Linked DNA regions of Homo sapiens: region 1 is linked to region 2. The links come from fine-mapping of genetic effects on gene expression. Tissue or cell type: whole blood. Region 2 holds a variant in brackets; the other region holds the start of a gene. All regions are shown on one strand. Distances are from middle to middle.

Region 1 (5,140 bases), 180 kb after region 2:
TAGAGGTCCAGATGAACAGAAGTTCATGACTGACTTGCTGACAAGGAGGGAATGAGATCAGAGGTCTCACCTGTTCATTTGCCCTGTGGTAGTAACTTGCATGGGCCCCGCCTGATCCCACATTCAATGTAGCTACCCAGTGTACAGCTGTAAAATCCAAAGTACAGAGGGGAAGGAGTGTTAACTGTAGTATGACACAGGCCAGGAACCCCAGAAAAGTCCAGAATTGCCCCCCACCACCACCACTACTTCACTTCGCCCCATACCCGAGTACTTCCCAGCCAGTGTCAAGATGGCCCCCTCTTCGCCTGGCCGCCGGTGATAAACTAGCTCTCCTCCCAGCACCAGCCGATGAGTGAGGCTCTGCAGGAAGTGAGCAACCATGATCACTGTGGGGGAATGGGGAGACATGGAGTCAGTCATAGAGACAATATCCAGACCTGCTCCCTCACTCCCAATAACCGCCACCCCAGCCTGCCCAAGAAGTTCCTTTTCTAAACTCCAAACTGTACAGAAGATGAAGAGGCATAGTAACATTAGCAAATGGGCCGCCAAGATAAAAAGAACCCTGTCCCAGTTCCTCACCCGACTCCCCAATCAGGTCAGGATTTCCTAGGGTCAGAGTGGCTGTGTAGTCATCTCCCCGATACTCGCCATCAAACTGCCATGTCAGGAACTTGGCCTGCTGCGTCTGGGTGGCAAGAGCAAGAAGTAAAATCTCCCTCCCTCTTTATGATCATTATAGACTCTGCTCCTCCTTCCAAGCCCTCAGAGCAGGAAACCCGTGGAGGAGAAAGAGGAAGTGCCTCAGGGGATGGAGGCAGGAACTGTGGTCACCTGGAAGACAGCCTTAGCTCGGAGCCGCTCTGCCAAGAGGAGCAAGACCTGGGCGTTCAGGCTGCCACTGCTGTCCATATCCCCTACCACAGTGGGGAACACCTGTGGAAGGGTGTACACAGTAGTAAGGCTGAGCCGGATGGCACCACTCAGCCTAAACCCAAATATAGAACTTCATTAAGAGTGCACAGCGCCCCCTGGTGGAGTCACAAAGACACACTCTGGGCTCTTCACAGAAAATGTTTCTCTACCCTCTCTCATTCAGAAAAGACACAGAGAATCAGGTTACGGCCCATTCCTCCCCATAACACACACAATTCCTCTTCCTCCAGACCTGGGTCCCAGATTGGTTTTTAGGGAGATGACCCAGGTGTGTGGAGCCCTCACCTCAGTGGGACTGAGCTGCCAATCCCCTGCATAGGCCGCATGGAGGTGATATCCCGGCAAGCCCAGGGCACTCATGTGTATAGTGTGCGCCACCTGAGGAAAAGAGGATTCAGTGGAGAAAAGCGCATTCCTGCTCCACTTCAATCCCTCATCCCACCCTTAGTCTTTTCCCCATCCAGAGGGCCTCTCAAGAATCCTAAATATTCCAACATATACAGAGAAGGTCATCGGATTAAAAGCAACAAGTCCCACAGGCACGGAGGTAAAGAGAACCCCACATCCTCCCTCATTTGTCCCACATAGACTGGCTAGGGCTGGAGTACAAAGGAAAGGAGAAGATGATCCAGGGACAGGAAAGGGGGAATAGTAAGGAGGGGCCAGAGAAGTGGGAGCACCTGGAAATGGCTGCTCAGAACCTTGTTGACAACGAGCTTCACTCCCTCCATCTGTGCTGGGAATACATCTGAAGGGGGTAGGGGAAGGGAAGGAATAAGCACAGACAAAGAACCCCTACCCCAAAAGATAGTCTCCCCTTTCAATCCCATAGGGAACACTTTGGAGGAATTAACCTCCTTTCAAGTCCTGCAATGAAATGCTCCACTTCATTTGGGCACCTGATCCTCCCTGAGGCTGCATGACCCAGCTATGATCTCCCCTTTCCTGCTCCCATCGCCGGACATCCGGCATTCAAGACCCTCCACTCCTCTGCCCCTTCATCCTGAGACACCCAAGTGCCAAGTTCTCACCTTTGCATAGACGGTGCAGCTCATCGAAGCTCCCAGGGTTGGGCAGGGGTTCCTCTCGGCGGGGGCTCCGGCGGGGCAAAGTCCCCATTGGTGCCAGGCCCAATGTGTTCCCCATTTTAGTCCAGAGGACTGGGAAGAGCCGAGGTTAGCCTGTGAAAGGACGCTATTGCCCCTTTACCCCCCAACGGGCCCCACCCCCCATTATCCGGCTCCCCAGCCTCAGAAACTTCCACATGGTCCGACGCTACACCTGGAACAGGAAGAGTAGGGAAGGAGAGCACTCATGGAGAGACAACCCTAGGCACACTCCCGCCCCATCTTTGATCTCTCACCCCCACTTGTCACCCTTGTCCTCTCTCCCTTTCTCTGATCCTAGCCCCCACCACAGACTTCACCTAGCTCCCTAGCCTCTCTATTCTTCATTCCCAGGCCCCAAGACCAGGCCCGCAATGGTGCAGTATCCCTTACCATCTCAGACCATCATGCTGCCCCTTTCCCCCCGGCACACCCCGGTCATCTTGATGGGGGCAGCCATCTTGAGTGATGGCAGAACTGCAGCTTCACGCTGCATTCTTAGCGTGGCCGTAAGCGCCATCTTTGAATCTGGCAAAGAAAGCTGTCAAAGACCCAACCCAACCCTGATTGGGCCCCGCCCAATCAATGAAAAAAAAAAAAAAAAAAAAAAGCCTCGCTATTTACCATGGGCCAATGGGAAGGGAGGAAGAAAATGAGTGGCAGGTCTGACGGCCCAAGAGCTTCAACCCTGGAGCTGCAGAGGCGGGCAGGACTTGATTGGTGGCCCCTTAGACTTAAGTGGAAGGCTTTAGATCACTAGGCCTCTCCAAGGTCGGAAAAAAACTTGTGAGCGTACAAGACACTAGAGGGAGCATCTTGTAGCTTGGGCCACTGAAGCTCCTTCCACCCATGTAGTTTCATCCATGAGAAAAGTGGAACTACAGCTTGTAGACTGGCATAGTGTGAAGGGTGGCAGAAAGAACGATTATGAAGACTTCTTTGGAACCCTGGTTCATTTCTATCGCTCCCTTCTCTCCAAAGAACCCATGGGAAATCCTCCTCACAGCCCTCCACAGCACACCTCCAAATGAGTACTACTCATTAAGCGCAGCACTCCCTAGAACAGGGACCCACCCTTCTCTTCTGGAGGTCTACATCTCTCGAAGTCCCCGCTCTTGACCACTTGGTGGAATGGAAACGGGTGTGAGAGTTTGGCGCAGAGGAGTAAGTTCTAGCAGAACTATTCGCTGAAACAGCTGCTTTCTGTATTTAACCCTTCCTTCCCTGAGTCCCAAGGCAGAGTTGGCAAATAAAATCTAGGAATATGGAGCCTGGCCCCCAAAGGCACTCCATCCCAGGACCAGGGACAAGCCAAAGGGCTGACCTCAAGCACTAAGCGCTCCACAGGGGAATAATTGAAAATGGAGTAAGAGTTCTTGGTCTTGGAGGGTGAAGGGTGGGAGGAGGGAGAAGATCAGGAAAAATAACTAATGGATATTAGGCTTAATACCTGGGTGATGAAATAATCTGTACAACAAATCCCCATGACACAAGTTTACGTGTGTAACAAACTTGCATATATAGGCCAGGGGCGGTGGCTGATGCCTGTAATCCTAGCACTTTGGGAGGCCGAGGCGGGCAGATCACCTGAGGTCGGGAGTTCAAGACCAGCCTGACCAACATGGGGAAACCCCGTCTCTACTAAAAGTACAAAATTACCCGGGCGTGGTGGCGCATGTCTGTAATCCCAGCTACTTGGGATGCTGAGGCAGGAGAATCCTTGAACCCGGGAGGTGGAGGTTGCAGTGAGCCGAGATCATGCCATTACGCTCCAGCCTGAGCAACAAGAGCAAAACTCCGTCTCAGGAAAACAAACAAAAAAACCTGCACATATACTTCTGAATTTAAAACAAAAGTTAAAAAACAAAGATTTCTTGGTCTCTGGTCACTACCTCCCTCATCAGCTTTGCGCCTCCACTGTCACCCTCAGGAATGTTCCACATACTCAGCGAGTATGCTTGGGGGGCAAAAGGGTGAAAGATACAAAAGCTTCTGATATCTATTTAACTGATTTCACCCAAATGCTTTGAACCTGGGAATGTACCTCTCCCCCTCCCCCACCCCCAACAGGAGTGAGACAAGGGCCAGGGCTATTGCCCCTGCTGACTCAATATTGGCTAATCACTGCCTAGAACTGATAAGGTGATCAAATGACCAGGTGCCTTCAACCTTTACCCTGGTAGAAGCCTCTTATTCACCTCTTTTCCTGCCAGAGCCCTCCATTGGGAGGGGACGGGCGGAAGCTGTTTTCTGAATTTGTTTTACTGGGGGTAGGGTATGTTCAGTGATCAGCATCCAGGTCATTCTGGGCTCTCCTGTTTTCTCCCCGTCTCATTACACATTAACTCAAAAACGGACAAGATCATTTACACTTGCCCTCTTACCCGACCCTCATTCCCCTAACCCCCATAGCCCTCAACCCTGTCCCTGATTTCAATTCCTTTCTCCTTTCTTCTGCTCCCCAATATCTCTCTGCCAAGTTGCAGTAAAGTGGGATAAGGTTGAGAGATGAGATCTACCCATAATGGAATAAAGACACCATGAGCTTTCCATGGTATGATGGGTTGATGGTATTCCATGGGTTGATATGTCAGAGCTTTCCAGAGAAATAACTTGGAATCCTGCTTCCTGTTGCACTCAAGTCCAAGGACCTCAGATCTCAAAAGAATGAACCTCAAATATACCTGAAGTGTACCCCCTTAGCCTCCACTAAGAGCTGTACCCCCTGCCTCTCACCCCATCACCATGAGTCTTCCATGTGCTTGTCCTCTCCTCCCCCATTTCTCCAACTTGTTTATCCTCACATAATCCCTGCCCCACTGGGCCCATCCATAGTCCCTGTCACCTGACAGGGGGTGGGTAAACAGACAGGTATATAGCCCCTTCCTCTCCAGCCAGGGCAGGCACAGACACCAAGGACAGAGACGCTGGCTAGGTAAGATAAGGAGGCAAGATGTGTGAGCAGCATCCAAAGAGGCCTGGGCTTCAGTTGTGGAGAGGGAGAGAGCCAGGTTGGAATGGGCAGCAGGTAGGGAGATCCCTGGGGAGGAGCTGAAGCCCATTTGGCTTCAGTGTCCCCCAAACCCCCACCACCC
Region 2 (5,146 bases):
CATACAGAGGACCCGCACTGGCACTGGTCTCTGAGTTCCCTCAGTATTTATTGATCACTATCTCTACCATCTCGGAGAGGGGGATGTGGCAGGACAATACGGTAATAGTGGGGAGAGGGTCAGCAGGAAAACATATGAGCAAAGGTCTCTGTGTCATAAATAAGTTTGAGGAAAGGTGCTGTGCCTTGATGTGCATGTACACAAACATCTCGGTGCATTAAAGAGCAGTATTGCCACCAGCATGTCTCACCTCCAGCCCCAAGGCGGTTTTCTCCTATCTCAGTAAATAGAACGTACAGTCGGGTCTTACACCGAGACATTCCATTCCCAAGGATGAGCAGGAGACAGATGCCTTCCTCTTATCTCAACTGCAAAGAGGCCTTCCTCTTTCAGTAATCCTCCTCATCACAGACCCTTTAAGGGTGTGGGGCTGGGGGACAGTCAGGTCTTTCCCTTCCCATGAGGCCATATCTCAGGCTATCAGATGGGGAGAAACCTTGGACAATATCTGGCTTTCCTGGGCAGAGGTCCCTGCAGCCTTCCGCAGTATATGTGTCCCTGGGTACTCGCGAGTAGAGAATGGCAATGACTTTTACCAAGCATACTGCGTTCAAACACTTTTTTTAACAAAGCACATCCTGCACAGCCCTAAATCCATTAAACCTTGAGTCAATGGCCAGGCGCTGTGGCTCACGCCTGTAATCCCAGCACTTTGGGAGGCCAAGGTGGGCGGATCACGAGGTCAGGAGATGGAGACCATCCTGGCTAACACGGTGAAACCCTGTCTCTACTAAAAATACAAAAAATTAGCCGGGTGTTGTGGCGGGTGCCTGTAGTCCCAGCTACTCGGGAGGCTGAGGCAGGAGAATGTGGTGAACCCCAGAGGCGGAGCTTGCAGTGAGCGGAGATGGCGCCACTGCACTCCAGCCTGGGAGACAGAGTGAGACTCTGTCTCAAAAAAAAAAAAAACCTGGAGTCAACACAGCACATGTCTCTGGGGCACAGGGTTGGGGCTAGGGTTACAGATTAACAGCATCTCAAGGCAGGCAGAAGAGTTTTTCTTAGTACAGAACAAAATGCAGTTTTTTTGGTTTTTTTTGAGACGGAGTCTCACTCTGTCGCCCAGACTGGAGTGCAGCGGCGCAATCTCGGCTCACTGCAACCTCTGCCTCCTGGGTTCAAGCGATTCTCCTGCCTCAGCTTCCCGAGTAGCTGGGACTACACATATGCGCCACCATGCCTGGCTAATTTTGTATTTTTAGTAGAGACGGGGTTTCACCATGTTGGTCAGGTTGGTGTAAACTCCTGATCTCAGGTGATCCACCCACCTCAGCCTCCCAAAGTGCTGTGATTACAGGCGTGAGCCACCGCGCCTGGTCAGAGCTTGTAGATTTTTTTCTTTTTTTTTTTTTGACAGTCTCGCTCTATCGCCCAGGTTGGAGTGCAGTGGCGTGATCTTGGCTCACTGCAAGCTCTGCCTCCCAGGTTCATGCCATTCTCCTGCTTCAGCCTCCTGAGTAGCTGGGACTACAGGCACCCGCCACCATACCTGGCTAATTTTTTTGTGTTTTTAGTAGAGAGGGGGTTTCGCCGTGTTAGCCAGGATGGTCTCCATCTCCTGACCTTGTGATCCACTCGCCTCGGCCTCCAAAAATGCTGGGATTACAGACATGAGCCACCACGCCTGGCTGAGCTTGTAGATTTTCAATGGAAACTGGGTTTGGCTGTGAGATGTGACAGTTGCAGATCTCTTAAGTATCCTTATGTTGCAGTGATGCTAAAAGTGCCACTCATTCAGTCCAAGTAAAGAACAAGTCCTTTGAAATGACAATTCCACAGTTTCAGAATTTATGCAGACAATTCAAGGAGATTGCTGCAGTTATTGAAACTATGTGAAATGGATTATTTGGTTGATAAATTACTATCATTCTAAAGTCATGGACTTCACTTTCTGCAACAAAACCGCATAAGAATGAAGTATTTATTGAATGAAAAATTGCACTTTTGTTTTTTTTCTTTTTTTTGAGATGGAGTTTCACTCTTTGTTGCCCAGGCTGGAGTGCAGTGGCATGATCTCGGCTCACTGCAACCTCTGCCTCCCAGGTTCAAGGGACTCTCCTGCTTCAGCCTCCTGAGTAGCTGAGATTACAGGTGCCCACCACCACACCCCGCTAATTTTTGTATTTTTAGTAGAGATGGGGTTTCACCATGTTGGCCAGGCTGGTCTCGAACTCCTGACCTCAGGTGATCCGCCCAGCTCGGCCTCCCAAAGTGCTGGATTACAGATGTGCGCCACCACATCCAGCTGTTTTTCCATTTTTAAAAATAATTTTAAAAATTCAGACAA[A/C]AAAAAGATAATAGCGGCCAGGCTCATTAGCTCACAGCTGCAATCCCAGCACTTTGAGAGGGTGGGTGGATCACTTGAGCTTGTGGGGGAAAGAAAGAGAGATCAGACTGTTACTGTGTCTATGTAGAAAGAAGTAGACATAAGAAACTGCATTTTGTGCCAGGTGCCTTGAACCCAGGAGCTGAGAACGTGCTAAGGAAGGAGACCACTACTACTCCTGCTGCCCTCCTCCCCCCACCTTGCCTAGTTCACAAGACAGGAGGAAAGAGAGAAAGCCAAAAGTTGGAAAAAAAACAAAAGTGAGATAAATAGCCAGACAATCTTGACACCACCACCTGGCCCTAGGAGTTAAAAAAAGTTATAATAATAACATCAACCCCTGACCTAAACTACTTGTGTTATCTATAAATTCCAGACACTGTATGAAAAAAGCACTGTAAAACTTTTTGTTCTGTTAGCTGATGCATGTAGCCCCCAGTCACGTTTCCCACGCTTGCTCAATTTATCACGACCCTTTCATGTGGACCCCTTAAAGTTGTAAGCCTTTAAAAAGGCCAATAATTTCTTTTTCGGGGAGCTCAGCTCTTAAGGCGCAAGTCGGCTGATGCTCCCGGCAGAATAAACCACTTCCTTCTTTAATCCGGTGTCTGAGGAGTTTTGTCTGTGGCTCGTCCTGCTGCATTTCTTGGTTCCCTGACCAGGAAGTGAGGGGATTAATGGAAGGCCAAGGCAGCCCCTTAGGCAGCTTAGGTCTGCCCTGTAGAGCATCCCTGCGGGGGACTCTGGCCAGCTTGAGCCATGCAGATCCTGAGAGCGCTCCCAGGTAGGCATTTGTCCTGGTGGAATGCCTTGTCAGAGCAGTGCACAGCAGGCCCCCGCAGAGGATCAATGCAGTAGCTGAACACCGGGAAGGAACTGGCACTTTAAGTCCAGACATCTAAAACTTGGTAAGACTGGTCTTTGGATCTTGCCCACTCCATTTGAGTGGAAGCATGGCCTGATCACCCATGGCGTGCCTGTACCAGCACTTTGGTTTTTGTTTTTGACTTGACTTGAATTGCTTGACTCTTTGGTTTTAGTTTTGATTTTGATTTGACTTGAATTGCTTGATAAACAGGCATGCCTTTATTGGCACTTTGGTTTTGGTTCTGATTTTGACTTGGCTTAAATTGCTTGATGAACAGGTGTGCCTTTAACAACACTTTGGTTTTCGTTTCGATTTTGATTTAGTGTGAATTAGACAAGTGAGTGACCTTTTACCCTTTCCTTCTTGTAGTGTGAATGTTGTTTTGTCTCAAGAGAAAAATAGGTCAGACACAAAGTAAGCCCACTCCGCTAGGAACTGTGTAAAAAATTTTCAAAAAGAAAAATAAAAGGATAGTCATCAAATCATCAAAACTTACTCTATTAAAATGTATGTTACAGAACCTTAAGAAAGGTTTCACAGGAGATTACAGAGTTAAGTTAACCCCCTAGAGGTTAGGAACTCTGTGTGAATTAGAATTGCCCTCTTTTGGTGTTGGATGGCCCACCGAAGGAACTATAGACAGGGAACAATTGGCCATGTATTTAAGGTGGTGACAGGGGTCAGAGGACAGCCAGTGTACCTAGATTAAATTCCTTTATATTGACTCATGGTTAAATATAATATAGACAAAACCAGCATAAATTTAGCCCTGTTTAACAGCTTATTGCAAAAAAGCCAAAAGTAAAAGTAAGAGCAGCTTCGCCAGCAGTCAGAGTTAAAAAGGGAGTCCCAGAAACAGCAAAAGAAGCCAGTTTTGCAGGAGCCACCAAAGATAATAGAAATTATTTCTCCACATATCCCAGCCTACCCACCTTTACTGAAGCCAACAGCCCCCTCAGAAATGAGATTCAGGAGCTAACAGGCCCCAGGTCTCACCTCGAAGGGGAGGATTGGAGCCTCGAGAGGCCAAGGAAGAAGGTCAAGATAGTCAAGTGGGCCGTCTCAGATCTGGTCTTGCTGGAGCTATGCAAATGCCTCTCAGGAAGACACCAGGACCTGTCTATTATAATGACCAGGCCCACATCTTGGGGGGCAACAGACTTTCATCTATCAGCCCTTTTCAACCATTGATCTACTAAACTGGAAACACCCTGAACCTGCCACCTTGCTCCCAGCAGCTAGAGCCCTGTCGAGCATAACAGTGCAGAGGTGTTGGACTCAAGTTTACTCTAGCAGACCTGACCTCCGGGACCAGCCTTGGGCATCAGTAGACTGGGAGCTATACAGCTTCATCAACCCACAAGGAGAGAGATATGCAGAATATGCAGTGGTAACCCTGGACACTGTTGTTAAGCTGAGCTCATTGCTTTAATTCGGGTCTTAGAACTCAGTGAAGGTAAGACTGTAAACATTTACACTGACTCTCAGTATGCCTGTTTAACCCTCCAAGTGCATGAAAAATTATATAAAGAAAAGGGCCTGTTAAACTCCAGGAAAAAGGGGAAAAAAGGCCCAGAGAATGCAACTCAGCTTCAGTGTTTGCAGAGGTACTGAGAAGCACTTCTGCAGAGGTTAAGAGTTGGTAGAAAAAAGCAAGTAATATAAAAAAGATTTCAGGAATGCTTTAAGGAGCTGGCAAGAGCCTAAGTCAGTTTTATAAGAGACTCTATACAGCATTCTGGCTTTACACCCCATTTAACCCTGAGGCTGCTGAAAATCAGTATATAGTGAATACTTCATTTGTAAAGCAAGCCTACGGTAACAGCAAGCAGAAGCTGCAGGCATGAATACCACCTAGTCTATAAAAGTGGCCACCAAGGTGTACGTTAACT

The links. PIP is the estimated chance that this variant, and not a neighbour inherited with it, causes the effect.
Region 1: it holds the start of TOMM40L, and the variant in region 2 is fine-mapped to the expression of TOMM40L in whole blood (INTERVAL, PIP 0.90).

Annotation. Positions count from the first base shown.
Region 1 is chr1:161,223,435-161,228,574 of GRCh38, reverse strand. TOMM40L (translocase of outer mitochondrial membrane 40 like) reads right to left here and starts at 2,515. Exons shown (of 10, transcript NM_032174.6): 1 at 2,439-2,515; 2 at 1,971-2,220; 3 at 1,620-1,687; 4 at 1,225-1,317; 5 at 838-939; 6 at 586-691; 7 at 267-389; 8 at 71-147. The coding sequence starts at 2,085. It overlaps APOA2 (apolipoprotein A2), which reads left to right and starts at 4,947. Exons shown (of 4, transcript NM_001643.2): 1 at 4,947-4,980. MIR5187 (microRNA 5187) reads right to left here and starts at 1,389; the gene lies at 1,314-1,389. RefSeq lists enhancers at 776-955, 2,470-2,539, 3,000-3,109.
Region 2 is chr1:161,408,347-161,413,492 of GRCh38, reverse strand. It overlaps the pseudogene COMMD6P1. Among named protein-coding and RNA genes, the nearest start is that of TRV-CAC1-1, 11 kb to the right of the region's middle. The variant A/C (reference allele first, on the strand shown) is at 2,348.